Homo sapiens: one gene and its partners. The protein of the gene in region 3 purifies or fractionates together with the protein of the main gene of each other region. This does not show direct contact. Each region holds a gene or a part of one and is shown on either strand. Other genes may lie near its edges. The genes, in order: RAB12, RAB10 and RILPL1.

The links.
Region 1: the proteins of RILPL1 (region 3) and RAB12 purify together in Homo sapiens (co-immunoprecipitation; 2 studies listed by IntAct). This does not show direct contact.
Region 2: the proteins of RILPL1 (region 3) and RAB10 purify together in Homo sapiens (co-immunoprecipitation; 3 studies listed by BioGRID and IntAct, with this or other methods). This does not show direct contact.

The regions. Positions count from the first base shown.
Region 1 is NC_000018.10:8,617,606-8,627,398, forward strand, and holds part of RAB12 (ras-related protein Rab-12), read left to right. Parts: intron 1-6,378; exon of another isoform or gene 6,379-6,408; coding exon of another isoform or gene 6,409-6,538; intron 6,539-7,332; coding exon 7,333-7,393; intron 7,394-8,195; exon of another isoform or gene 8,196-8,389; intron 8,390-9,217; exon of another isoform or gene 9,218-9,793. UniProt on the Homo sapiens protein: The small GTPases Rab are key regulators of intracellular membrane trafficking, from the formation of transport vesicles to their fusion with membranes.
Region 2 is NC_000002.12:26,026,491-26,037,083, forward strand, and holds the start of RAB10 (ras-related protein Rab-10), read left to right. Parts: upstream 1-7,593; 5' UTR 7,594-8,118; coding exon 8,119-8,245; intron 8,246-10,593. UniProt on the Homo sapiens protein: The small GTPases Rab are key regulators of intracellular membrane trafficking, from the formation of transport vesicles to their fusion with membranes.
Region 3 is NC_000012.12:123,480,038-123,489,830, forward strand, and holds part of RILPL1 (RILP-like protein 1), read right to left. Parts: intron 5,769-9,793; coding exon 5,596-5,768; intron 4,236-5,595; coding exon 4,143-4,235; intron 1-4,142. UniProt on the Homo sapiens protein: Plays a role in the regulation of cell shape and polarity. Plays a role in cellular protein transport, including protein transport away from primary cilia.

The DNA of each region.
Region 1 (9,793 bases), on a different chromosome or scaffold from region 3:
AGCCATCCACCCTGTCTTACTGTTAATTTTATATACTTGCCTAGCAATGCAAAGTTCTTTTTCAGCCTTAAATATATGTTCTTAGCTCCCTTCCAGCCTCTGCCTTTTGTTCATCAGGTGGGGCTGCACAGTGCACAGGGAGGAGCACAGCCGGGAGCCAGGCAACCCAGGTTCAAATCTGTGCCCTCATGCTCACCAGCTTGGTTACCTTAGGCAGTCTACCAGCTTCCCTGACTTCTGTTTTTTCATCTATAAAATATAGACAGTAATATATACCTCATAATATTGTTAATGAATATACACTGCAATAAGTTAATGTAGATAAGGCCCTTAGAATATTATCTGAAATATAGCAAACACCACAAAAGTTCTTAATCTTTTCATTTGTGAAGAGAACATACACCTTTCTGTGGAATTCTCATACGTGTGTACACTTCCATGAGAGGAACTGTCCACTCACTCTGCTGGGCTCCAGCCACGCCTCTCCTTGGAGGCCCAGGACCTCCAACTGTCCCTCTGTCCTCCCCTCCCTGATGCAGTCCGTGGTGTCATTGTTTGTTCCAGTCAAGTGCAAGGCTGTCTCCTTGTGCTTCTGTGTACAGGGTGGGCTTTATTTGCTGGGTGGGAGCGTGCCAACCCTGGAGTGCAAGCGAGGACAGGTCTTCTTGTACCTGGATGCAATTTGACATCCTCAGGCCTGGATAAGCATTTTTTTAATGACGCATAGTAACATTAGGATTTTAATAGTACCTGCTTCTGAGTTGATCAAAATATTTTATAGTTATAGTACTTAGTTTCTATTTAAATCCTTACCACACAGGTTAGATAGGAAAAGCCAGATAATATTAAATAGTAGGATGTCACAAGACAGGTCTACTAGCAGTGAGTTTGCATCCCCTTTTCCTCTTTTTTTTTTTTCTTTGAGACAGAGCCTTGCTCTGTCCCCCAGGCTGGAGTACAGTGGCGCGATATTGGCTCACTGCAAGCTCCGCCTCCCGGGTTCACGCCGTTCTCCTGCCTCAGCCTCCCGAGCAGCTGGGACCACAGGCACCCACCACCACCACACCTGGCTAATTTTTTGTGTTTTTGGTAGAGACGAGGTTTCACCGTGTTAGCCAGAATGGTCTTGATCTCCTGATCTCGTGATCCACCCGCCTTGGCCTCCCAAAGTGCTGGGATTACAGGTGTGAGCCACCGTGCTCAGCCACATTCTCTTTTCCTTATATGGGACGAGAATTCATTTTGAACTCTTCCCCGGTAGGTGGTAGAGTTTGGGCAGAAGACTGGCCTTATGCCCACATGACTTGATTTTAATGCTAGATTTGCCTCTCTCTGTAACCTTAACATGTTCCTTAATTTATTTTCTCACAACTCACTGAAAATGCTTACAATCCAATCCCTTAGTAGAATATTATATCCAATTTAACATTATGTAAGATACATCCTTGGAAGAACAGCCACTATATAAAACTTAAGGTCATTATTATAAATTGGCAGTGACAACTACTGTTTGTATTGAGACTTACTTCCAAGTCTATGGAAATTCTTCAACTTCTTGAAAGTATTAAGTAAAATCTATGGTCTGGTCCAAACTCCAGATCTTTGGTGGAACGAGGAGAAGTGACCTGGGCATGGAAGAAGAGGGCACAGTCCGCTTGGCCGTAGTCCTAGATGTGGACCACAGTGGTGGTTAGGCTTTTTACTGGAAAGGAGTGTAAAGAAAGAAGTTTCCGTGTGTTTTTGCCATTTTCACTTTTGTAACTTCTTATGGCCCAGCAAAAAGAAACAGTAGTGTGCAAATGTTTCGCTTTAAGGGGAACATAGAAATCTTACAAGCACTAAGTCCAGGGATTCCTCCCGCTGTTGCTAGACATGTGAAAGACAGCCAGCAAGAAGGCAGAGCGCAGAGTCAGGCCTTGTCTTAACAGCTTGGCTGTGGGAGCTATGAGCCACTTCAGAACATCTCACGCTTTTCTCTCTTTTCACCCATCTGACTTTTATTATAATAACCTTTCATTGTGGGCAGTGGTGTAAATTTGAGTCTTGGTTCTGCTGCTTCTCTGTCATGTGGTATGACTGTAGGCAAATTACCCTGTCCTCTCTCTGCTCATCATGTTGTCTTCCTTTATAAAATGGGGGTAATAGTTTCCCCGTCACTGGGCTGCTGTGAGGCTTGGATATGTTGGGTATTAGACATGGAGTATTTGACAGATGTCCACTGTCATTAGTACTAAAGGAAATTAAGGTCAAGAATAAGACACCGGCACAGTTGCTCATGCCTATAAACCCAGCACTTGGAGAGGCTGAGGTAGGAGGATCGCTTGAGTTTGAGACCAGCCTGGGCAACATAGTGAGATGCTATCTCTACAAAAACCAAAATCAGTTAGTGACAGTGGTGTGCTTCTGTAGACTCAGGTACTCGGGAGGCTGAGGTGGGAGGATCACCCAGGAGTTGGAGGCTGCAGTGAGCTATATAGGATCCTGCCACTGCACTCCAGCCTGGGTGACAAAGCCTTCTTTTTTTTTTCTTCTTCTTTTTTTTTTTTTTTTTTTTTGCTTCAAAAAAAAAAAAAGACTGACTTAAACAGAGCAGTCTAAGACCTTTGATAATACTGTATCTCTGTAGCCTGCGTGCTTTTAGAAAGCATTGTTAAAATACTTTTAGAAAGACTTCCACAAAACTGGTAAGCCTAAAGAAAAGCAAGCTCCTCTCACCAGACTAATTCACCTGGTAGACCAGTTCTGTATCTAAGGGACTGAATGGAGAAACTGTTACCGTAATCCTCTGAGATTAGTGTGTGTAGGGAGAGGCTGTGAGCAAGGATGTCTGCCCCATCCTGTGAGGAACTGTAGGAGAAATGAGAGGTTGTGTTGCTGCACACACTCATATTTCCCCTGTGTCCTGGGCACCCCTGCGTTCACTGCTTCCATTCCACACCTGCTACTCAGATGCCTTTTTTTTTTTAACTAATCAGTCCTGAATTTCCCTATTTTTTCCCAAAAATAATTTGCATTTCTTCTTACATATACAGCATTTGATGGAGAAGAGGGAGCAGTTTCCAGCCATCAAATTTATTGAGTTGCTGTTGTGTGCCAGGCAGTGTCCTAGACTTTAGGGGGCTGAAGATGACTACATCCTCGGAGGGCAGGCACGTAGCCTGTCGGGGAGGCCAGCAAAGAAGGAACGATGTGATATGGGCTAGAAGAGAGTTCAGGGCCAAGAACTGGAACATAGATAAAGACAAGGGTAAAGGTGGGTGCAGTCAGAAGAGGTCAGATGGGAAATCTAGGGCTTCAGAGGGTTCTGGGCAGACAAGGAGTTTCTCTAAGAAGAGAGAACAGCAAAGACAGATGCTTTGCCAAGTGCATGGTGTGTTAATTTAGGTCAGTATGACTGAGGTTTTCAAAGGCAGGGACTGTCCCCATCAACAGTGGTGGGGGCTCGTTGCTTCCTCCCTTAGTCAAGATAACCTGTAGGAAACCGGTTTTCAACAGGGTTGTAGACAGTAGTGAAGTCGCCACCCTCTTTGTCCCTTGGTTGTTTGTAAACATTTCCTCTTCTGTAACAGGAACTCTGTTGACTTTTCCTAAATCATCTGCCAGATATTTGAGGTTATTCATGACTTTTTTCCTTTTATTGAGGATCATTATCACTTCTATGACATCCCAGTATTAAAAATAGACAACATTAAGGGATATTTTTGACTTTTAATATAAGAAAGTTTTTAGAAATGTTTAGTCATGTACTTTGATAGAGGTATATGTTTCTAAGCCAAAAATTGGATTAAGTTTCCAGTCATTGCAGGCTACTTAATGTCTGTTAGATGTGGTATAGGTATAGGATATTTTGTTTAAGAGCGAGGACTGTTTTAAGGAACTGGTTTTACTCATGGAACCGTAGATCTGGCCACTGGGTATTTTTCTGTTGTGTTGTTAATTGTCATTCATCTACTCACTATAAGATAGTCTTCATTTTGGCTAAACAGATTCTTTTTTTCTTTTGTTTTTTTCCTTTCCAGCTTTTATTTTAGGGTCAGGGGGTACATGTGCAGGTTTGTTACATGGGTGAATTGCGTGTCATGGGGGTTTGGTGTACAGATGGTTTTGTCACCCAGGCAGTGAGCATAGGACCTGATAGGTAGTTTTTCAGTCCTCTCCTTCCTCCTACCCATCACCCTCAGGTAGGCCCCAGTGTCTGTTCCCTTCTTTTTGTCTGAGTACTCAATGCTAAAACAGGTTCTTAGCCCTATTTACTGTCGGGTAATCTTTGCTTTGTTTTCCTATTAGAACTAATAATGTGTTTATAATTACATAGTGATAATGTTACCACTTATTTCCTGATTTTGAATATTAATGTCCTAGCCTTTTATTTTTATTCATTAAATGTTGTGATTACAAAATAGTCCTAGTGTAGGACTGCTGGAGTTCGGTAAGTTGTTCAAGTTGGTTGGGAAAGGCAGTCTGACATATTCAGACTCCATTGTTAGCAGAGAAAACTGTAGTCAAAACAAAGATTATCTGCTCTAGCTGTTTCAGGGACTCTTAGTCAATTTGAAGCAGAGCTCAAAAGAAATATCATCTGCCAGTTATTTTCAATAAAGTCGCAGCCACTGCCACAAGGTTTACAAAAGTTACAGCTCCTTTAATTACATTTTAAAAACTAACTTACTTGAAGAAATTGGAAACAAAAGTAAAATAGAATATTGGGGAACCTGCCCCGTTAGTCACGTAGGTTCTTTTCTATTTTCCCTAAGCGTCGGCCGGTTTGAGAAATAAAGGGACAGAGTACAAAAGAGAGAAATTTTAAAGCTGGGCATCCAGGGGAGACGTCACATGTCGGTAGGTTCCGTGATGCCCCACAAGCCACAAAACCAGCAAGTTTTTATTAGGGATTTTCAAAAGGGGAGGGAGTGTGTGAACAGGTGTGGGTCACAGACATCAAATACTTCACAAGGTAATAGACTATCACAAGGCAAGTGGAGGCAGGGCAAGATCACAGGACCAGGGCGAAATTAAAATTGCTAATGAAGTTTCAGGCACCATTGTCATTGATAACATCTTATCAGGAGACAGGGTTTTGAGAGCAACCGGTCTGACCCAAATTTATTAGGTGGGAATTTCCTCTTCCTAATAAGCCTGGGAGCACTACGGGAGACTGGGGTCTATTCCACCCCTACAGCCTTGACCATAGAAGACGGCCACGCCCAGGGCCCCCCGCCACCCCGTAGACCTACCCCCAGGCGAGTATTCTCTTTCCCAGGGATGTTCCTTGCTGAGAAAAAGAATTCAGCGATATTTCTCCCATTTGCTTTTGAAAGAGGAGAAATATGGCTCTGTTCCGCCCGGCTCACCAGCTGTCAGAGTTTAAGGTGATCTCTCTTGTTCCCTGAACATTGCTGTTATCCTGTTCTTTTTCAAGGTGCCCAGATTTCATGTTGTTTAAACACACATGCTCTACAATTTGTGCAGTTAACACAATTATCACATGGTCCTGAGGCAACATACATCCTCCTCGGCTTACAAGATGACAGGATTAAGAGATTAAAGTAAAGACAGGCATAGGAAATCACAAGGGTATTGATTGGGGAAGTGATAAGTGTCGATGGAATCTTCACAATTTATGTTTAGAGATTGCAGTAAAGACAGGCATAAGAAATTATAAAAGTATTAATTTGGGGAACTAATAAATGTCCATGAAATCTTCACAATCCACGTTCTTCTGCCATGGCTTCAGCTGGTCCCTCCGTTTGGGGTCCCTGACTTCCCGCAACAATAGAATAGTAGTCATCACAGATTATGCATTTGATTAGTAAATTCCATCACAGAGTAGCATGGCAGCAGTGAAATCCTAACTCTACATTAATATGAAGACAGTGTTTTGTCATTAAACTGTGCTGCTTTAAACCAGATAGCAAATATCTGCGCTATTTTGTGCGTCTTGTGTAGTGTCACTTGAAATTGCAGTTTCCTTGCAGCTGAGTGTTAAGCCACTGTCTTCAAGTTCTCCATCATGCAGAACCTGCTTCCTGGGTCAAGGCAGTGTCTGAGCTTCCTTTGACTTTGGAAAGCAAATCATTTCCAGAACTGAAAGTGAAATTGAATTAAGTAGCTTTCCTTCAGGGACATCTGAAATTATGTGTTATGTGAGAGGTTAAGAATTGACATGGAGTAGTGCTCTCTAGCTTTGTTTTCTTGTGACATTTTATATTCATGCAACTTCTCTCCTAGGGCAGGAGGGCTGCCTCCCTGGCCACACCCTGCCCCAGGGCTGTAAACATGCCTTTTGTGTGGCATTGGTGTCCACAGTGTTACTAATTATAAAAATCGGTCACATGTCTTCCACTTCCCCTCAAGAGCCTCATCTGACTGCAGCACCTCATTGGTGCCCAGAGACGGGCAGTCAGGGGCATGGCCAGGGCCTTGCCCTCTGCAGCCACCATACCACTCACAAACATGGGCACCTGCTGGCCCGGGGAGCTGGGATCGTCTACACCCTGGGTCCCAAGGAAGCTGTCAGGAAGTCGTTCCTGTAGGGAAGGTGCCTCTAATTCTAAATTCAGCCAGCATCCCTTTTGTTTCCCTTAGTTATGAAAATTGTGTAATAAAATATTGTTGTGAAATATTTACATTTTGTATAACTGGAAGGCATATAAGGTAGCATACACAAATGAAAACTTGGTTTTAAAAATATATCTGAAGCTTTACAGGCTAAATTGAAAAGGAAATATACATGATGGTTTGCTTAGTAATATTAAAATGAATAAAAATTAAAGTTGGGTATGTTAATTTGTGTAAGAGTAAATTTTAAAATCTTCTCACTGTTGATCATATAATGTTATGTTTATATTTACCTAAAATTTTCATGAGTACTGAAATTTTTAGTACAATAATTTCTAAATTCAGACTAAGGCTATTTGACTAAAGTTGATTAAGTTTGATTAAGTTTCCAGTGTTCCATATAAGAATTTTCCCTGAGAAAACATCCTTTTAAAGCCACTTATTTGTTGATGTAGTTATTAAATGTAATTTTAAACTGGTTTCTATGCTGAACTGTGGTAGTTATAAGTTGTGTTATGAACAGCAAATACTAGACCGATCACTCAGGATAAGACATAACATGGGCTGACCTTCCCAGTGTGGACTGAAGCGTGAGAGATGGGAGGTTATAGACACTGGTGCAGATACTGCTTTTCCTTGGAATTAAGTGATGTCAGGTTTCGTGGGGTTTTCTTTTTTTCTGATAATGATAACAAAATACACAAATAGGATTATTTTGTATGACAAATTGCATCTTTGTTGTTTTTGCTTCACATTTATTTGTTTTATTTACAGGTGTTGACTTCAAAATCAAAACTGTAGAGCTAAGAGGAAAGAAAATTAGATTACAGATCTGGTAAGTGGGAGAGTGTGCACCCAGTAATGTGCTGTGTGTGTTTAACAGTCCATGTACTTGTCTAATAAAATGAACTGTTTGAGCTGATTTGCCTCTCCTACTTTCTCCTCTTTTGCTCATTTTAAAATTAAATGGACAGTGTTTCCATCAAGAGAGAGAATTTAGATAAGGCTGTTATGTTATATGCCACTTGCACATGGGGAGCAGTTGTGGACAGAAGAATGTTACTTTAATGGTAGCTAGTTTGGAACCTTTTTGCCTCTATTTTCAAATTATTTACGTGATATCAAAACTGTCTCCACTAAAATGATTGCTCAAATGTTTGTCTTCATGTCTTTATTTTGTATGATAGTATTCAAAGAAAGCCCAATATGTTCATAACCAGATTTGCACAATCTGAAGGCAGGTCCCCTGCAGACAGTTCCAGAGCTTCTTGGTGGCACAATGTGACTATTACTGCGGGTGGGCATACTCCTTCCGGCTGTACTGCTGATTCCACGGGATGTGAGCCCCCACTAATGCCTACTAGAAATGAATCCAGGCCCCTTTCTCAAATCACAATTGGAATGAGAGACTCAACCAGCTGTGTTATAACTGCACTCAGCACTAAGAGCTTTCTGTTAGCTATTAACCTGTTAACAGCCCGCAGGTGCTAGCGACCTGTCTGTGGAAGAAGGGATAAGATCTGGTCTGGTGGTCTGGCGGTGGCTTAAAAGTAGCCCCATTGAGGTGCTCTGAGAATGCCGTTTTGTTTTGAATGCTACAGCTGCGGTGTACTCAGCTTACTAACTCCTCTTGGCAGGTCACCCTCAGCTCTGATTGTTTGTCCACCATGTGTGTGTTTGCTTTCATCTGCGTTAATTGCTGCTTCATCTGTGGCATCATCGGTCACCTAATGCTTGAATGTTAGTGCCATGTCTTCATTCTTCATCCGTGTCCCTGTCTGGGCCGCAGCTGCAGCCAAGCCGCAGTGCCTGCCTTCTGGAGGTGTCTGAGGTAATATCTTCATTTGGTCACCCTTCACTGTATAACACACTTCTAAGATTTTTTGATTTGGGTTTTTGTTCGTTTTCTTTTCTGTTGTGCATTTGGTCTGCATATTTTCATTTTTGGCTTGATTATGAAACATTAGGTCTTGTCTAAATACTTGAATAAACAACAAATAGATATTTCTTCCTGTGCTAGTCCCGCAGACTTTTTGTGCATTGCTGCCCAGCTTTTAAACGCTGGAAATGGCAACAAAGTGTTTGGCACACAAGCTGCTGTTTCTAATTATAAGCTCTATAAGGTAAAGACCATCTTCACAAGGATTTGGGATATGCCTCTCTCTGTTCCTAGTACCTGTGTGAGGTACTTTCTGATGAGAATATTGCCCCACAAAAGTGATGTAAACATTATTAGAATGTGTGACGCCTGCCTTGGTGACAGCCATGCCTGATGACTGTGGCACATGTCTTAATTAATGCATTAATACTTCCATCTTCATCTTTGGCGGCAGTATTCTTTATAAAGTATGTCCAAATGATTTATAAAGTATGTCCAAATGTCCTGGTGCCTCCCTGGAGCTCTGCCCACTAAGTCTATGCTGGTGACATTGTACACTCCTGGAATCTGACTACAATGTCCTTGACTCTGAGATAAGAGGGCCCTACCTGATGGAATCCCCCTCGGGGAGAAAGTGAGATACTGTGGCTCCACGAAGAGCAGCGGGCACTCAGAAACCATTTTTCTCTTGTATATGAAAGCATTCTCCAAATGACCCCTCTCCCTCTCCTGATTCTCCCTTGACTCTTTACTACTTTTTCATTCTCTAAATCTGTGCAGCTGTACAGCATGGGCAAAGAGCGTAACTAAGGGAGGAAGAATGAAATGGATTGGACTTACGGAATGGTTGATTGCAAGTTTTCTACATGGAATATTCCAGTGACTCTTTTCCTGCAGGAAGGTTTTGAACAGTGACTCATATATCTACTACAGGCCAGCCATTTTGTTGATCACATAATACTCAAAATAAGATTTTTATCTTCTGAAATATTTTATTTAAAAGATGAAAACCTTTTCCTTCATTATTGCTATGCAGCAGGTAAAAAGGAAGTGTTAGAATCATGATTGTAATTTGTATTACTGTTTTAAAGTAATGCGTGGCTTCTTTAGGAGTGAGGCACAGCCCTTGTGCTGCTGCTGGTGTAACCTGCTTTGTTGTGGGCGTGTTGTCGTCGTTTCACTCTCATCCATTGAGGGCATAGAAGGCGCCTGTGTAGCTGGAAACGGTCCCTCAAGGAGGCGCAGTGGATTGTGCTATGCTAATAATAGATAGCTCTGCTCCGATTTTCTAGACTGGCATGAAAGCATTGCCATTCGGTTTTCATAGGAGGATCTTGTTGGAAGAAGTGCATTATT
Region 2 (10,593 bases), on a different chromosome or scaffold from region 3:
CCTCGAACTCCTGACCTTGTGATCTGCCTACCTCGGCCTCCCAAAGTGCTGGGATTACAGGCGTGAGCCACCGCACCCGGCTTTGTTTTTTTGTTTTTTTTTTTTTTTTGAGACAGGGTCTTGCTCTGTTGCCCAATCTGGAGTACAGTGGCGGGATCTTGGCTCACTGCAACCTTGACTTTCCAGGCTCAAGCAATCCTCCTGCTTCAGCCCCCTAAGTAGCTGGGACTACAGGCATGTGCCACCATGCCTGGTAGGGCAATTATTTTCTAACAAGAGGAGGCCTAAGTCAAGATATGCAGGCAGAGCAGAATACTGACGGGCTGCCAGCCACTAGGCAATCAGTACTTAGCATCAGGAAAGTCTAACCAAGATCTATCCTCATGAAGTCCCTGCAGGAAGACTGTGGGTGTGAACACAGGAAATAAGCAGTAGTAAATACACAAAGTCCTGGAGACTGGAGGGGAAGGTTTTATAGCAAGGTGATGACGTAGCAGTCGGCTGGCCCTTCAAGGGAAGACTCGATTCTCTCTCTTTTTTTTTTTTTTTTTTTTTTTGAGACGGAGTTTCCCTCTTTTTGCCCAGGCTGGAATGCAATGGTACGATCTCGGTTCACTGCAACCTCCGCCTCCTGGGTTCAGGCAATTCTCCTGCCTCAGCCTCTCGAGTAGCTGGGATTACAGGCATGCACCACCATGCCTGGCTAATTTTGTATTTTTTAGTAGAGACAGGGTTTCTCCATGTTGGCCAGGCTAGGCTGGAACTCCCGACCTCAGGTGATCCGCCTGCCTCAGCCTGGCCAAGTGCTGGGATTACAGGCGTGAGCCATCACGCCCGGCCTGGAAGACTCAATTCTTATGAAGAACACGGAGAGCAAGTTGGGGAGGGATAAAAGAGTAAGAAATCAGGTATAGAGACTGAATATGCATGGGAACAGTGGTAAAGATGATCCTGCCTCAATATCTTTTGAGGCAGGAGTTTTTTATAAGGTAGAGGCAGGTCCTAAAAGCTTAAGTTGAAGACTAGAACCATGAACTGGTCAACTATGCTTTTTCTAGAAAAATATAGAGATAATACCTTAATTGATAGTATAAACATATAAATATACCTCTTTTTTCTTGGCTTTGCAAATATTTGGACTACTACTTTCTCTTTTCCTCCCTCCCTCCTTTATTTATTTATTTACTTATTTTATTTATTTATTTTTTTGAGACAGAGTTTCGCTCTGTTGCCCAGGCTGGATTGCAGTGGCACGATCTCGGCTCACTGCAAGCTCCGCCTCCTGGGTTCACGCCATTCTCCTGCCTCAGCCTCCCGAGTAGCTGGGACTACAGACGCCCACCACCATGCCCGGCTAATTTTTTGTATTTTTAGTAGAGACGGGGTTTCACTGTGTTAGCCAGGATGGTGTTGATCTCCTGACCTCGTGATCCACTTGCCTCGGCCTCCCAAAGTGCTGCGATTACAGGTGTTAGCCACCGCGCCCAGCCTCCCATTTATTTATTTATTTTTTATTTTTATTTTTATTTATTTATTTATTTATTTTGGTTTTGAACCTTTAATGAGAAAAAAATATATAATATCGAGCTCAAGAACACTGTGTGTTTGGTGTCATTGGGTCAAGGGTTGGGGATACACACGGCAGAATTCGGAAACGGTATATGTCAACAAAAATACACACAATCATAACAAGAAAAACTGGCGCCTGGCACAATCAACTCTCAGTTTCCTCTTCACTCAGCAGCATGTTGGGGATCCCGCGGCTGATGGGGAACATACGTCCAGATTCCGGGCACTGCAGGGTGCCCTCTATCACTTCCACCTCCAGCAGCAGGTGGTGCATGGTCCTCAGAAACTCTTCATTCTCCTCATATCCCTCAACTGGCCCTTTAGGCATCTGGATCAGGCGCAAGCTATCGGCCGCCTCCAGGAACGCCGACCACTCCACCTTAGGTATCATATGTACCACGTATGATACGTGCCACGTATGATGCCACATAAATTGGGGGTTGAACTCCACAGGGCAGATACGGACCTCGGTGGCCTGGAGGCACAGGGGGAAGCCACGGGACCCCATCCCCCGCACATGCGAGCTCAGCAGATTGTGGGTGAGCAGTTTCATGTCGCCACACAACTATTTTTTATTTTTTGAGACGGAGTCTCACTCTGTCGCCCAGGCTGGAGTGCAGTGGCGTGATCTCAGCTCACTACAACCTCTGCTTCCCGGGTTCAAGCGATTCTGCTGCCTCAGCCTCCTGAGTAGCTGGGACTACAGGCGCACGCTACCAGGCCCAGCTAATTTTTATATTTTTAGTAGAGACAGGGTTTCACCATGTTGACAAGGATGGTCTCGATCTCTTGACCTCGTGATCCACCCGCCTCAGCCTCCCAAAGTGCTGGGATTACAGGCGTGAGCTACTGTGCCCAGTCTATTTATTTTTTTGACAGTGTGTCTCACTCTGTTGCTCACGCTGTAGTGCAGTGGCAGGATCATGGCTCACTGCAGCCTCAGCCTCCCAGGCTCAAGCAATCCTCCCACCTCAGCCTTCCGGAGTAGCTGGGATCACAGGAACTCATCACCATGTCAGGCTAATTTTTTCTTACTTTTTTTAGAGATGGGGCTTCACCATGTTACCTAGGCTGGTCTGGAACTCCTAGACTCAAGCTCTCTGCCTACCTTGGCCTCCTAAAGTGCTGGGATTACAGGCATGAGCCTCTGCGCCTGGCCTGGACTACATTTTTTGTTGTTGTTGTTGTTGAGATGGAGTCTCGTTCTGTCACTCAGCCTGGAGTGCAGTGGTGCGATCTCGACTCACTGCAACCTCGGCCTCCCAGGCTCAAGCGAGTCTCCTGCCTCAGCCTCCCAAGTAGCTGGAATTATAGGTACCTGCCACCATGCCTGGCTAATTTTTGTGTTTTTAGTAGAGATGGGGTTTCACCAAGTTGGCCAGGCTGGTCTCAAACTCCTAATCAAGTGATCCACCCGCCTGGGCCTCTCAAAGTGCTGGGATTACAGGCATGAGCCACTGCACCTGGCCTCTGGACTACATTCTTTATAGAGCAATTTTGAAAAAAGCATAACCCCTAAACTAGCAGTAGATTGGCATTTTTTTCACTGTTTCCACTTTTATGAAATATTTCTTCATAACTCTAGGTTTATCCTTTAGGCCTGTGTAGATCCCCATTTTACTCTTCTTTTCTAGAGTCAGAGATCTTCCATACCTTGATCACTTCTGCTTGCTTCACTGGCAGATATAGCTTGATGCTTAGGCCTCACTCCAGCAAAACCTTTAATTAACTTTAGAGAATCCAAATGCTAAGTACTGGCCGAGCCTCTCAATCCTCGCAATTCTCACCTTGAGGTAATACGGTGTCCTGTGGAGGTTTTCTTCTCTTTTCCCTTGCCCGTATAGTCCAGGCTCTGCACTAACAGTGTGACCTCTGGGAAGGCCCTAACTTCTCTGAATCTCAGACTCCTCATCTGTGAGTTACGTGCAGGGGTCAAATTATGATTTAAAATATATGGTGGGGCATGTTGGCTCGCACTTGTAATCCCAGCATTTTGGGAGGCCAAGGCTGGCAGATTGTTTGAGCCTAGGAGTTCAAGACCAGCCTGGGCAACATGGCAAAACCCCATCTCCACAAAAAATATAAAAATTAGCTGGGCGTAATGGTGCACATCCATAGTCTCAGGGACTTGGGAGGCTGAAGTGGGAGGACTGCTTGAGCCCAAGAGGCTGAGGCTGCAGTGAGCCATGATCGTTCCACTGCACTGCAGCTTGGGCGACAGAGTGAGAACCTGCCTCAAAAAAAAAAAAAAAAAAAAAAAAGGTATCCTGGCGGGGCACAGTGGCTCACGCCTATAATTCCAGCACTTTGGGAGGCCAAGGAGGGCAAATCACTTGAGGTTAGGAGTTCAAGACTATCCTGGTCAGGGATGGTGGCTCACGCCCTAGTTAAAGGCTTATGCTTTTTTCAGAATTGCTCTATAAAGAATGTAGTCCAGGGGCTGGGCGCGGTGGCTCATTCCTGTAATCCCAGCACTTTGGGAGGCTGAGGAGGGCGGATCACTTGAGGTCAGGGGTCTAAGAGCAGCCTTGCCAACATGATGAAACCCCATCTCTACTAAAAATACAAAACTCAAGACAGGCGTGGTGGCGGTGCCTGTAATACCAGCTACTTGGGAGGCTGAGGCAGGAGTTTCACTTGAACCAGGAGGCAGAAGTTGCAGTGAACCAAGACTGTGCCACTGCACTCCAGTCTGGGTGAAAGAGTGAGATTCTATCTCAAAAAAAAAAAAGTCTATGATCGATAATTTGTTAATAAATGTAATAATTCCTAAAGTTTCAGAATATGAGTTCATGGGGAAAGGTTTCTAAGTGATAAAATTGTTGGTTACAGGATAAAAAATAAAGTGAAAAAATCTTTTTTACTTATATTTGTACATATTAATGGAAGTACATGTGATTTTTGATACATGCATACTGTGTGTAATGATCAAATCATTACAAATGAGGTTACCCATCACCTCAAACATTTATCATTTGTGTTGGGTTTTTCAGATTTTTCAACTGTCCATTATCCCCAAAATTTACGTAGTGGTATTACTCTCCAAATTAGGCTTTTTTTTTTGAGATGGAGTCTTGCTCTGTCACCAGGCTAGAATGCAGTGGTGCAATCTTGGCTCACTGCAACCTCCGACTCCCTGGTTTAAGCAATTCTCCTGCCTCAGCCTCCTGAGTAGCTGGGACTACAGGTGCATGCCACCATGCTCAGCTAATTAATGTATTTTTAGTAGAGATGGGGTCTCACCATGTTGGCCAAGATGGTCTCGATCTCTTGACCTCAAACGATCCACCCACCTCGGTCTCCCAAAGTGCTGGGATTACAGGTGAGAGCCACTAGGCCCGGCCCAAATTAGGCCTTCTACAGGAAAAAGTCTTGGCTGGGCCTGTTGGCTCACACCTGTAATCCCAGCACCTTAGGAAGCCAAGGTGGGAGGATCGCTTGAGGCCAGGAGTTTGAGGTTGCAGTGAGGCCTCCACACTCCAGTGTGGGAAACAAGCAAGACCCTGTCTTAAAAACAAACAAAACCTTTAACACTTCATTTTTTCACAGATGGAGTCCACTCTGTTGTCCAGGCTGGTCTCAATCTCCTGGGGTCAAGCAATCCTCCCTCCTCAGCCTCCTGAATAGCTGGGACTACAGGTTCAGTCACTGTGCCCAGCTTAAAAACTTTCAAGACTTTTAAAATACTTTGTAACATTGAGGCTTGAGTTAATCTAACTTATTTTGAAAGGAATAATCAAGGTAACAAGATTTTCCTTCTGACGCTGAATTGACGACACACCTGTGCTGCACTGACCATCACTCACTTTGTGATTTGCATAGCTAGTCTATTTTAGAATTGTTATTATCATAAGGCATTCCCGACTACAGTCAGAATGATTCATAGAGGATAAGAAGGTTTAAGTGAGGCCAGGCGCAGTGGCTCTCACCTGTAATCCCAGCACTTTGGGAGGCTGAGGCGGATGGATCATCTGAGGTCAGGAGTTCAAGACCAGCCTGGCCAACATGGTGAAACCCCGTCTCTACTAAAAATATAAAAATTAGCCAGGCTTGGTGGCACACGCCTGTAATCCCAGCTACTAAGGAGGCTGAGGCAGGAGAATCACTTGAACCCGGAAGGGCTGCAGTAAGCCGAGATTGTGCCACTGCACTCCAGCATGGGTGGTAGAGTGAGAGTCTGTCTCAAAAAAAAAAAATGTTTAAGTGACAAGACTAGGAGCAATTGGAGAAAACAACTGAAGAGAAAGCTGTATTAGTGAAGACAAGTATCTTCGGTAAGGACGCTTTAGGGGTGGTTGAGAAGAAAGGAAAAATGTAAGACAGAAATATAAGACAGAAATGTAAGACGGAATTGCCTGAAAGTCTAACTTTAATTACATATCAAATACACATTTTGGTGATTTGGCGATCTTGGGGTGGTGTGTGTGAAAATGTAGTTTTTACTTCTCTATCCCTGTTTCTTGTTTTCCACATACTTCAGCGTTTTCCACTTTATCAGGTTGAACCAGCTCACCAGGTTCAACTCCTGTGCCATCACACCTAGGTGTGCTTTGAGGGATGGATGTCCCTGAGAATGGAAGGTCAGCAGCATGCATACTGCAACTACAGAAGGGTAGGAGAGAAAAAGGGTGGCGTAAACAGGACTGATGGGGAGAGAGAACAGAAGGTAAAGCAAATGCAAAGAAAATGCGAGGGCCCGGGCGCGGGGGCTAACGCCTGTAATCCCAGCACTTTGGGAGGCCGGGGCGGGCGGGTCACCTGTCAGGTGTTCGACACCAGCCTGACTAACAGGGTGAAACCCCGTCTCTACTAAATACAAAAAATTAGCCGGGCGTGGTAGCACATGCCTGTAATCCCAGCTACTTGGGAGGCCGAGGCAGGAGAATCACTTGAACCCAGGTGGTGGAGGTTGCAGTGAGCAGAGATTGTGCCATTGCACTCTAGCCTGGGCAACAAGAGCGAAACTCCATCTCAAAAAAAAAAAAAAAAAGAAAGAAAAGAAAAAAAGAAAAAGAAAATGCGAGGAAACGAGCGAAACTCCATCTCAAAAAAAAAAAAAAAAAAAAGAAAGAAAAGAAAAAAAGAAAAAGAAAATGCGAGGAAGCAGGCTGTGTCGGACTGGGAGTAGGCTTGACCACCTTTCAATTTTCAACCCAGTGGTACGACGCTGGCGGCAGGCAGAGGCCCCACCTCCTCTGCAGAGCGCTCTCGGGTTCTCCCGGATTCCTGAAGGACGGCAAAGGCCTGAAGCAGGTTCTCTGAGCACCGCACAGAACCCTCCACTTCGCAGGGAGGTTCTTCCTGCGCCCAGGTGTTCCTCAACCTTCCTCTCCTCGCCCAGGAAGAGGTTGTGAGGATTACCTCATCCCAACCCGAGCGGCGTGGCCAGCTTTTCCATCTCAAACTCTTGCTCTTGAAGTCAATCCGGATGGAGCGCTCATGTTTCCCCGTCAGGGCTGGCCCTGGAGAGGGGGCACGCCGGGAGGCGTCTCGTTCTAGCAAAGAGGCTATTAAATGACCCAGGGCGCGGCTTTTTCTCGCGTTTACGAGCTCCACCTACACGGGAACACATGGCCACCCAAGCCCGTCGCTGCGCCAAGACCTCCAGCTCAACACACCCGACAAGCGCTGTGCAGAGAAACCGCAGCGCAGTCCAGCGGGAGACCCCGGGAGGGGAAGGAGGTGCTGGGCTCTGTAAGGGTGTCCCGGGGAGCGGGGAGCGGGAGGCGGGAGGCGGGGGTCGGAGGGGGGGCGCTGCGCCTGCGCAGTCGCTAGGTAGCGTCTCCCCCGGGGCGTGCTCGTAACGCCGCGCACCCTATCAGGCGGCCACAGGGAGCGCGCCCGCGGCCTCGCCCTTTCTCGCCCCTCCCTTCTCCCCTCTGGGTCCAGCCTCAGACTGAGGCTTGGAGACAGGAGCATTCCACTCGCCACTTCGGCGCGCCCCCATGCCCTCTTGTGCGCGTGCGCAGAGGCGGACCGCAAGGCTAGGGCGTGAGGGAAGGGCGGGCGTACGCCCTTGCGTGCGTCTCAGGCAGCGCGCACGCCGGCGTGAGAGGGCACGGGGAAAAGGTGGCTCTGGCCGGGGTGGCTCGGTTTCCTGGGGCTATGTAACTGAGCTCGTCGACTTAGGGGTCCTTCTTCGCTGCCCTCGCCGCGTGCTAGCAGGGAGTTTCCGCTCGGGAGAGAGACTGTCCTCACGCCCGCTGCGCCTCCTCGACGGCAGAGCAGGCTTGCTCGCCCGTGGGAGCGTCCCGGCCGAGAAGCCCTGAGGGGGGAGGGGAGGCCATTTTGTCCCGACCGACTCCCCGGAACCGGGCGGACGGGCTGGGAGAGGCTGCGGAGCCGCGGTCGCCGCCCTCGGAGGCACTGGACGCCGCCACTGTCGGGGCTTCCTCAAAGCTGTTCGTAGGTCGCCCGCGCCGTCTCGAGCCTTTTTCCCACGCTTCCCCGGTCCTCCGGCCTGAGAACGCCCGAGTGAGGAGTTGGCCGTAGTGAGAGGGACCGATCCCTTGGGGCCGCCGGCGGCGAGAGCCCGAGCCGCTCCTCCCAATGGCGAAGAAGACGTACGACCTGCTTTTCAAGCTGCTCCTGATCGGGGATTCCGGAGTGGGGAAGACCTGCGTCCTTTTTCGTTTTTCGGATGATGCCTTCAATACTACCTTTATTTCCACCATAGGTAAGACCTGTGGGAGGACGGTGTACGGTCTCGGTAGCTGCATACCGTTTATTTTACTCCAGACATCTTGCTTCCCGTAATATACGCCTTTGTTTCAGTGATTCCGATTCCAAACGACACATCCAAGTTACTGTTTGAATCGGCATCGAGCTTACTGGGGCGGGGTCTTCCCATGATTTCCATCCGGTCTTTTGCTTTCGAGTCTCCCACTATGCTCAGTGCCTTCTGTTACAAAATATGCATCATTTAACCATGTTCCAGAACCTTATTTCTTCAGGCGACTGGACTGGCTTTTTCCACATTTGCGTGGAATTAGTAGATGTGTGATATTTTTAAGGTATTTATTTCAGTGGTTGCGATTGAAGCAGTACTAGCTATTTGGGAAAGGCCTGAATTTATACTTTGGGGCAAAGAAAAGATTCCATATGGTGATAACTTAGAGTAAACTTGAGGGTTTCTGAGAAGAATAATTAAGGTAAATTAGAAGGGAAGAGTGAGTTGCCCTCATTCACTAATCCATTGATGTGTCAAACAATCGGAGGCTCTTCGCGCTTGGGGTGGGACTCTGGCATATTTGCCTCAGTGCTTTTCGAGACATCAACAGAAGCAGTAATCTGAGGGAGATGATCAGTTTCTGTCCTCAAACCCAACGGAGTGAAGTCAAGCTCTCTCTTCTATTTTATTTGACTCTAGTATTTACAGGAAAGTATTTTGCCAGTCATAGCCCTATGGACTTATAATGCACTTTCACCATGTTTCAGAATTACTTAGTGTGGAAGTAAGAGCTAAAGAGTGACCTTTTTAATCGAATTTCCCGTTTAGGAAAGGAAAAGGGAAGGCTCTAGGAAAGTCCCTTTTGAATCTGGTTAGAAAATTTAAGTGGCATTGACGCTAATTGTGCTATATTAATTGTGAAACCCATCCGCTCCGCAATAAATTTCTTAAAAGACACATGGCTCTCAGCATTGTGGCGGTGCAGTTGAACCCATTTTTAAATGTACTTTTATATTGAGAGGCTTTTAAAAAGCAACGGCAGTCGTCTTTGAACTCTGGGAATTGTCAAAATTAAGCTGATTTGAAACAGTTTGTATAGCGTAACTGAAATATTTGGTTTGGGTTTTCTTTTGTGACAAATACCTGCTTCATTCTCACAAAAGAAATTATACTGAAATTAAATTGGACAAGTGATTTTTTAAATAGATTTTTATTTTGCTTACCTTTTTTGGGAGGCAAATTATCATAATCCTTATTTCCAGAGTATCATACTGTTTTCTTGGTCTGTCATAAATTTCATGAAACTTAGAGCTTGTTCTCTAACTTGTGGGTTAGAGAATACTAGCACTTAGCGCTAGCACTTCCCTAGCACTGTTTGCTTTTAACACTCCACTTTTAGCTGTAGCTGGCTAGGGTTAGGTGATCAGATGGGTCAGCAAATATTTATTGAGCACCTAATGCTGGGCACTGTTTTTAGGCACTGGGAATAAATGATGAACACAACAGACCCCTTGAGGAGCATTCCGGTGAGATAATCATAATAGTGTGGAAGATGCTACAATAGTAAGCACAGGGAGGAAGAGTGGCTAGTCTAAATCGTGAGGAGTTTGAGTAGGCTTACGTGGAGATGATACCTAAAATGAAGTCTGGGCCGGGCGCGGTGGCTCATGCCTGTAATCCCAGCACTTTGGGAGGCCTTGGCGGGCGGATCACAAGGTCGGGAGGTCAAGACCAGTTTGGCCAATATGGTGAAACCCCGTTTTTACTAAAAATACAAAAATTAGCTGGGCGTAGTGGCAGGCACCTGTAGTCCCAGCTACTCAGGAGGCTGAGGCAGGAGAATCACTTGAACCTGGGAGGCGGAGGTTGCAGTGAGCTGAGATTGTGCCACTGCACTCCAGCCTGGGCAACAAAGCCAGACTCCGTCTCAAAATAATAATAAATAAATGAAGTCTGAAGGACTAATAGGAATAGAGTCAGAGGGGTAGGATAGGGCCTTTCTGGAAAAGGGAGCATAGAACAAATGTATAGTAAGGTTGAGGATTTAATTCATGTGGTCAACTTTATTTATTTATTTTGAGACTGAGCCTCACTCTGTGGCCCAGGCTGGAGTGCAGTGGCGTGATCTCGGCCCACTGCAACCTCCGCCTCAGGGGTTCAAGCAATTCTGCCTCAGCTTCCTGAGTAGCAGAGACTACAGGTGCCCACCACCACACCTGGCTAATTTCTGTATTTTTAGTAGAGATGGTTTCACCATGTTGGTCAGGCTGGTCTTGACCTCAAGCAATCCACCGCCCCAGCCTCCCAAAGTGCTGGGATTACAGGCGTGAGCCACCACGCCTGGCTGTGTGGTC
Region 3 (9,793 bases):
ATTACAGTTAGAAAAACTCGGCTCTGGAAGGAATTTTTAGAATTACATATGACCGTGGGTGCTGGAGGCTCTGAATGCAGTACATTGGAAGTGAAAGTGAAGGTGCTAGAAAGGCTGATTCTTTTTTTTTTTTTTTTTTTTTAAATGGGGTATCGCTCTGTTGTCCAGGCTCGAATGCAGTGGTGTGATCTCGGCTCACTGCAACCTCCGCCTCTGGAGTTCAAGCAATTTTCCTGCCTCAGTCTCCTGAGTAGCTGGGATTACAGGTGCCCACCACCACACCTGGCTAATTTTTTTGTATTTTTAGTAGAGATGGGGGTTTCACCATGTAGGCCACACTGGTCTCGAACTCCTGACCTTGTGATCCACCTGCCTCAGCCTCCCAAAGTGCTGGGATTACAGGTTGAGCCACCGTGCCCGGCCTGAAAGGCTAATTCTTAACGACCTGGGAACAAATGGCTGAAGGATGCAGAACACAAGTCTCTTGATCTCCCCCTCCCTCAGCCCATGCAGAGACTATCTGGGCTCATGAAGCTTCTTGCAGTTTCTCCAGGCCTGAAACTCAAAGCTGTAGCTATCAAAGCATACAAGATAGATTCTGCTCATCCTCACATAGGAGTGGGGCTGGCGAGTGAGTTGGAGTTTAAGCAAAGCCAGTCCCATTTCCTACCAAGCACTGCATGAGAAACCCTTCCTGGGCACTAAGTACTGCAGAGAATCAAGACTGAAGGGCTTCCTCCTCCCAACGTGAGGCTACCGTGGGCACCCCGTATTTCTGTCTATCTAGCACTCTGATATTGCTTGGGGACCCATCCCTTCCCCTACTTTCAGGCCACTTGAACTGGATGGAGGTAAAAGTGCTCTGAGCGTCAAGGGTGAGGAGTCACAGACCCGGACGATCAATGTGCTGTCCTGTGATTGGGTTAGGGATAGTCATGTGACCCAGCTGGAGCCAATGGGACTCATTTCTGTGACTGATGGAAATCTTGGGAACAGAGACTCTGCACTGGAGTTTCAGACAGAAGAAAATGAAACCTGGCCGGGCGCGGTGGCTCACGCCTGTAATCCCAGCACTTTGGGAGGCCGAGGCGGGTGGATCACCTGAAGTCAGGAGTTAGAGACCAGCCTGGCCAACATGGTGAAACTCCGTCTCTACTAAAATTACAAAACTTAGCCGGGCGTAGAGGCAGATGCCTCTAATCCCAGCTACTCGGGAGGCTGAGACAGGAGAGAACTGCTTGAACCCGGGAGGTGGAGGCTGCAGTGAGCTGAGATTGTGCCACTGCACTCCAGCCTCGGCAATGGAGTGAGACTCCCTCTCAAAAAAAAAAAAAAAGAAAGAAAGAAAATGAAACCTGAGCCAAGGGCTGCCATGCTGCCATCCTCAGGCTGGACTGGACACCCAAGAATGGAGCCCACAGAGGAAAACCAAGCCAGGGGTGGAGGAAACAAGGCCTGGATCCAGCTGAGCCCCACGCTGTGGCAAGTTGGAACTTTTAGTTCCTTAGCCAAATTTGTTTTCTTTTTTTTTTTTTTGAGGCGGAGTTTCACTCTTGTTGCCCAAACTGGAGTGCAATGGCACGATCTTGGCTCACTGCAACCTCTGTCTCCCAGGTTCAAGCGATTCTCCTGCCTCAGCCTCCCAAGTAGCTGGGATTACAGGTGTGTGCCACCACGCCCGGCTGATTTTTGTATTTTTAGTGGAGATGGGGTTTCTCCGTATTGGTCAGGCTGGTCTCAAACTCCCGACCTCAGCTGATCCACTCGCCTCGGCCTCCCAAAGTGCTGGGATTACAAGCCTGAGCCACCGAGCCCAGCCCCAAATTTGTTTTGTTTTCTTTTTTCTTTTTTGAGATGGAGTCTCGCTCTGTCGCTCAGAGGCTGGAGTACAATGGCACAATCTCAGCTCACTGCAACCTCTGCCTCCCGGGTTCAAGCAATTTTCCTGCCTCAGCCTCCTGAGTAGCTGGGACTACAGGCATGTGACCACCACGCCCAGCTAATTTTTGTAGTTTTAGTAGAAATGAGGTTTCACCATGTTGGCCAGGTTGGTCTTGAACTTCTGACCTCATGATCCACCCACCTAGACCTCCCAAAGTGCTGGGATTACAGGCGTGAGCTACTGCGCCTGGCCTCCAAATTCGTTTTCTTAGGTTACTTTGAGTTGAGTTTCAATTGCAAATGGAAGGTTACTACTGAATCCATGATCTAAATGGTGTTGGGATCTAGAGGAAGCTTTTCTGGTGCCATGCGTCTTCCCTAGGAAATGTTTATCTCTAACCAGAACTGGGGCCACACTCCCTCCCCAGTGCATCAGGGACCTGGGGCCAAACTCCTAAGCAGCCTGAATGAAGCTGGAAGGGAGTCGTGCACCAGCCTGTACTCTCTAGCAATATCCGGCTAATTTTAAATTTTTTTGTAGAGACAGAGTCTCACTACGTGGCCCAGGTTGGTCTCAAACTCCTGGCCTCAAGTGATCCTTCTGCCTTGGCCTTTCAGAGTGCTGGGATTACAGATGTGAGCTGCCATGCCCAGCAAAGGGCATCATTTTCTTTCTTTCTTTTTTATCCCTCTCTCTCTCTCTTTTTTTTTTTTTTTCGAGACAGGGTTTCGCTCTGTCACCCTAGCTGGAGTGCAGTGGTACAATCTTGGCTCACTGAAGCCTCAACCTCCTGGGCTCAAACAATCCTCCCACTTCAGCCTCCCAAGTAGCTGGGACCATACCCAGCTAATTTTTGTATTTTTTGTAGAGAGGTGGTTTCACCATGTTGCCCAGGTTGGTCTTGAACTCCTGAGCTCAAGTGATCCTCCCACCTCTGCCTCCCAAAATGCTGAGATTACAGGTGTGAGCTACCGCACCCAGCCCCAAGGGCACCATTTTCTAAGAGGAGAGGGCCCAGCAGTGACAAACCTGCACGGCTCTGCATTGTCTACTCACAGGGCAAGAACTAACCAAGAATTTCCAAACATAACTGGATTTTAAAGGTTGGGGTATATGGGTAACACTCCACTTCCTCTCCCTACACGATCCGACTGGCTTTCCAACCCACACGCCCTGTTTTCACAAAGTTTCTTGTGGGTTTTGGAGGAAAGAACTGAAACCTCTTCTGTACTAAGCCTTGGATAGAACTGGAAGGCAGGCCCAGAGCCTGGAAGACCGTCTCAGGGGAGAGAATGCAGCTCCAACACTGCAAGCACAAGGCTGTCTTGCAGAGAGCTCACAGTGTGGGCTCTGGGGCCAGGCTACCTGGGTTTGAGCCCTGGTTCTGCCTCTTATTAGCTGAATGACCCTAGGCAGGTGCCTCTGTTTCCTTAACTATAAAATGGGAATGATGATGCTTCCACCCCACAACACCATGCTGAGGACTCAATGAGATATTCTGTGGGAACAGGACCCAGCACGTGTTAGCTTCTTAGTAGATACTGTCTAACAAAACCAGAGGTGTTAACCCTTTATCTGAAGAGTCTTAGAGGTCCATGAACCTCCTGAAATTGTTCACAAATTTTACAGATTTCTCTGGGGGAAATTTCAGGAGGTTTTATCACAACCTCAAAGGAATCTGTTGATGCCAAGAACCACTGAAGTAGCTTAAAGTCTAGTTGAGGGCAGGGACTAGGTCACTCTTTTTTGCGGGGTTCTCCTGCAGCAACCAAGGCCTGACTCTGCATGCGTTATGCAGTAACCCCTGCTTAATGGACAGAGGGCTACATGGATGAGTCATCAGAGAACTGCATAGATGGGGTGGACCCAGGGCCACCTGACATCTCAGAGCTGAGGTCTCAAGCTTCAGATGCACAACCCACCCCTACCTCGCTACCCTTATTTCCTGTCCTCAAAGGCCCAGAGATGCACCCCACCCCCATGAAACACACTCCAGCAAGCTCCTGAGTATCAGCCACTGGCCCAAGCCTCTCCCCTCTCGCCTCCCGCACTCCCCAAACCTCTCTGCCCAGAGACCCCCAGGAGGGACTCAGCATTCAGGAAGGGAGATGAACTCAAAGTCGGGGGCCAGGCCAGACGTCTCAGCAGGATGTGGTTAGTCACAAGCCTGGCCCTGGGAGCAGGTGCCAAGGAGGAAAAGTCAAAGGACACGTGAACCGCCAGGTCAGCCGAGCGCAGAAGCTGGCAGCGCATCACTTACAGTCGCTTGATGCCCGACTCCGGCTGGGGGGACGTCCTCGGGTGGGCGATGGGTGGGGGTTGGGGTATTCGGTTTTCCTCTTCCATTTCTTCACTGGAAGGAGATGAGAGGCGTGAGATAAAAGAGTCAAAAGTTCCTTGAGAACTGGAACATTCCAGAAGAGAAGTGTCTGATGGTCTGAGAGGGTGCATGCTTTTTAGGGGACCCGCATCTGTATTTCCAGTTTATTCTGAAGAGTCCAGCCAAATAGAACCACTCCCCGTTTCCTGTCCTTACACAGGCTTCCCTGTCGCTACACCTCTGTGGTTTCTTCTACCCAGAATATACCTGTCACTCCTCAACATCTCCCATATCTAAATACTACCCTATCCTTTCAGGAAGGCCCAGTTCAAATGCTGCTTCCTCCAGGAGGCCTTCCGATTTCCACCCCATCCACAAACTCGAAGAAGTGATCTCTCCCACTCTCCCATCTTTTTTTTTTTTTTTTTTTTTTGAGACAGGGTCTCATTCTGTTGCCCAGGCTCGAGTGCAGTGGTACAAACATACATAGCTCACTGCAGCCTTGACCTTGGGCTGAAATGATCCTCCTGCTTCAGCCTCCCAAGTGGCTGGGACTACAGGGTGAGCCACCATACCTGGCTAATTTTTAAAAATTTTTGTGTAGAGATGGGGGTCCCACTATGTTGCCCAGGCTGGTTTCGAGTCCTGGGTTCAAGTGATCCGCCTGCCTCGGCCTCGCAAAGTGCTGGGATGACAGGCATGAGCCACCGCGCCCGGCCTCTCCCATCTTTGAACATCCAGTATACAGTCAGTAAACCTTTCAATAAAAATGTGTGGTATTATATTTTTTATGCATCTCTTATCTTCCCCACTGGAGCAGGGACCACCTCTGGTGCATGGGTCCTTCCTTCCAGCTTTCTATTCAACAGATATTTGTTGTGCACCTACTGTGTGCCAAGCTCCATTCTAAGTGCTGGGAACTTAGCCATGGACAAGATAAATAAGACTTCTGGTCTCATGTTGCTTGTGGTCTCATGTGGAAACCTACAATAAAGCAAGCATGAGAGTGAACAGGATAATGTAGGAGGTGAAAAGGGCCACATAGACCATTAACACCGGGGCCGGGTTTCATTCATTCATTCATTTAAAAAAAGAGATGAGGTCTCGCTTTGTTGCCCAGGCTAGTCTCGAATGCCTGGGATCAAGCAATCTTCCCGCCTCGGCCTCCCAAAATACTGGAATTAAAGGTGTGAGCTCTGGTGCCCGGCCTGGGCCCAAGAGTTTCAGAAAGGGGTTGTGAGCTTGTATGTAAGTTCTTTAGGCCAGAGAGGGTACCCAAAAAAAACACTGATGAAATGCTTGTCTTCCAGGGGGTAAGAAGGTAACTGTACAGAAACTCTGGCTAACCTCAGTAAGGAGCCAGCTCGGGCCATCCAGCCCCAGGGACACTTGCCTCTTATAGTAAGCCAGCTCCTCCTGCAGCAAGAACACCTTGGACTTGAGCTCGTTCCTCTCGTGCAGCACGTCCCGCAGCTCCTGCAGGGTGAACCGGGGGCGGTTGGGGTCCTTGAGATCCATGGCCACCTTCTCTGCGTCGGAGATGCTCTCCTCTCCCACCGGCTCCGTCTGGAGGAGGCAGAGATGCTGCTAATGAATTCTTGGCAGCCACTGCCAGCACCCACTCTCTATCCTGAAGGAGCCCAAATTCTCCCCCTCCCGGGGTGCCAGCAGCCTGTGGAGGGTGCTATTTTCAGCACTCGCAGGCGGCCCTTGCTCACGTTCTGTACAGTTTCCCTCTGGAGGTGGAAGCCAGCAGCCACCTGTTCATTGTTCGCCTTCCCAATAGCCGAACCCACGGACCCCGCACCTCCCCACCCGACTTGGGGTTTCATTACAAACATGACAAGGCATCCAGGGAGGAGCTGTCACACCTCCCCTGCCCCCACCCTCGTACATCTGCTGCTTCCCCCTTTCCAGGCCTCCTTTCATCTCCTTACTAAGACCATTGCTAATTTGGCCAGAGTGGCTGGAATCTCAGCCTACACACAATTCTCCATTCCTTTTTCATTTGACAGTAAGTCATATCCATTTTCCCTGTTGTTATGGGCCTTCTGGTTAGGTCCTCTCCTCCCCAGTGGCTTTGAGTATCTGGAGTTCAGTGGAAGCCCGGCGGGGGTGCACACTCGGCCATTTCTCTGTGATGCGGGTGACCAACAGATCCCAGCATCATGCTAAGTCACCTGCCCCAGGTCACACCCACACCCATCCTCTCACCTTCTTGCATAGCGAGGGAGCCTTTTTAGAAAAATGTGGTAAAATATACATCATCTAAAATTTACCATTTGAACCTTTTAAAAGTGAACAATTTGGAAGTGACATTTAGTAAACTCACATGTCACACAACCACCACCTCTGTCCAGTTCTAGAACATTTTCTTCATACCAAAAGGAAAACCCATACTTATTATTTTATTTTTTTCTGAGATGGAGTTTCACTGTCACCCAGGCTGGAGTGCAATGGCATGATCTCAGCTCACTGCAACCTCCACTCCTTGGCTTCAAGCGATTCTTGTGCCTCAGCCTCCCGAGTAGCTGGGATTACAGGTGTGTACCGCCACACCCGGCAATTTTTTTTTTTTTGAGACGGAATCTCTCTGTCACCCAGGCTGGAGTGCAGTGGCACGATCTCAGCTCACTGCAAACTCCACCACCCGGGTTCAAGCCATCCTCCTGCCTCAGCCTCCTGAGTACCTGGGATTACAGGCGCCTGCCATTATGCCTGGCTAATTTTTGTATTTTTAGTAGAGACAGGGTTTCACCATGTTGGCCAGACTGGTCTTGAACTCCTGACCTCAAGTGATCCACCCGCCTTTGCCTCCCAAAGTGCTGGGATTACAGGTGTGAGCCACCGCACCCGGCTGAAAACCTGTACTTATTAAGCAGTCACTCTCTACTTCCCTATCCTGAGCCCTTGGCAAATGCCAATGTAGTTTCTGTCTATGGACTGCCTACCATGGACATTTCCCAGAAACAGAATCATACATTAAGTGGCCTTTTGTGCCTGGCTCCTTTCACTTAGCACGGTGTTTCCAAGGTTCATCCACGTTGCAGCACACACCAGCACTTCACTCTTTTTTTTTTTGAGATGGCATCTCACTCTGTCACCCAGGCTGGAGTGCAATGGCACGATCTCAGCTCACTTCAACCTCTGCCTCCTGGGTTCAAGCGATTCTTCCGCCTCAGCCTCCCGAGTAGCTAGCTGGGAATACAGGCACCCGCCATCATGCCCGGGCTAAGTTTTGTATTTTTGTAGAGACGGGGTTTTACCATGTTGGTCAGGCTGGTCTTGAACTCCCGTCCTCAGGTGATCCACCCACCTCAGCCTCCCAAAGTGCTGGGATTACAGGGGTGGGCCACCCCGCCAGCTCACTTCACTCCTTTTGATGGCTGAGCCATATTCCACTGTACAGATGTACCACAGTGTGTTTATCCATTCTTCAGCTGACGGACATCAGAGTGGTTTCCACTCTTTGGCTAATGTGAATAGCAATGCTAAGAACTGTATTAGTGTGGACACTTGTTTTCAGTTCTTCTGGTTGTATACCTGGGAGTGGGATTGCTGGGTCATGGGCTAATTCTGTGTTTAACTTGTTGAGGAGTTGTCAAACCGTTTCCCACGGCAGCTGCTCTATTTTACATTCCCACCAGCAATGCACAAGGGTTCCAATTTCTCTATATTCTTGCCAACAGTTATTTTCCTTTTTTTTCTTAATCACAAGGAAGCTTTTGCAAGTCAGCCAGTCAATCTACAGGTAGCCCACACTCTCAAAGGAATGGAGTGTCCCCAACACTCCTGAGCCACCAATGTCCCGTGACCAACCAGGAGTAGACAGAGGTCAGGACAGCAGTGAAAAAGCTCCAGAACAGGGAAAGGGAGAGGAAACAGACGTCCTTCCCAACCTCAAGAAAAACTCCATAGGCCCGGCACCGTGGCTCACACTCCTAATTCTAGCACTTTGGGAGGCTGAGGCAGGAGGATCACTAGAACCCAGGAGATTCAGACCAGCCCGGGCAACATAGCAAGACCTCATGTCTACAAAAAAGAAAAGAAAATTAACTGGGCATGGTGGCTTGCCCCTGTAGTCCCAGTTACATAGGAGGCTGAGGCATGAGGATCACCTGAGCCCAGGAAGTGGAGGCTGCAGTGAGCCAAGACTGTGCCACTGCACTTAAGGCAGTGTCTCCAACAAAGTGAGACCCTGTCTCAAAAAAAAAAAAAAAAAAAGAAGAAGAAGAAGAAAAACCCCATAGCAGCACAGGGAGAAGGGGACTAACTCCAGCCTGAATGTGCCCTGGACAGGAGGCTGAGGGATTCCAGAAGGCAGAGCCGAGAGGCTTCACACCCTGTGGGAGGCTGGAACCGGCTGTTCTGGGAAAGGACGTGTGAAAGGAGACAACACCCACTGCTGGGGCACGTCAGGTGACAGCAGAGCCACACACAGCAGGCCCAGGTTGGGGGAGCAAGCTGACCCTGCCCAGCCTTGGGGTCGGAGTCAGCACGGGGCAGCAGAGGAGGGGCCTCCATGCAGTGGGAAACTGAAATCTGACCCCGGCCGCCCTCGCAAGCTGTCTGGGCAGCTGAGGGGCTTCTTCCCACCCAAGAACAAGGGGAGGAAATGTTGGAGGATTTAATTTCCAAAGAAAGTATTCTAGGCGTCTGCTGATGCCACAATTTAGGTGGGCTGTGTCCTCAGAGGACATCTTCAATGTCCGATCTCCTCTGCAGCGCCTCCAGGGATGCTCCGGAACCACCCGGCAGCCACACACTCCATGTCTCCACCCAAGACCACATACAACAGGTGACGGATATGCGGCCGGCATTCAATCGCGCCAGTTCTCCTCTTTCCCTGGCCCAGCTTCACCAAGGAGCAACCCTGGATGTCTAGTTATCCAACATTTACTGAGAGCTAACTTTGTGCCTTGCTGGCCGTGGAGCTCAGCCCTGGGAACAGAGTCAGACAGATGGGGCTGAAGAGAAGATACACATAAATAGAAGCTTAAGGCCAGGTGTGGTGGCTCACACCTGTAATCCCAGTACTTTGGGAGGCTGAGGCAGGCGGATCACCTGAAGTCAGGAGTTCGAGACCAGCCTGGACAACATGGTGAAACGCTATCTCTACTGAAAATACAAAAATTAGCTGGGCGGCCAGGCACAGTGGCTCACGCCTGTAATCTCAGCACTTTGGGAAGCTGAGGTGGGTGGATCACGAAGTCAGGAGATCGAGACCAGCCTGGCCAACATGGTGAAACCCCGTCTCTACTAAAAAACACAAAAATTAGTCAGGCATGGTGGTGGGCACCTGTAATCCCAGCTGCTCGGGAGGCTGAGGCAGGAGAATTGCTTGAACCCAGGAGATGGAGGTTACAGTGAGCTGACACGGTGCCACTGTACTCCAGCCTGGGCGACAGAGCGACAGAGTAAGACTCCATCTTAAAAAAAAAAAAAATAGTGCACAGACACAAGATCTAACTGGAGAGAATCAGGGAAGATGTTAATCAGATGTGGTCTCTATGCATGGGGTCTTGACGAATATGTAGGAGTTCACCAGGAACTCTGGGCATTAGTAGTATAGATCAGAGGTTGCAAACTAA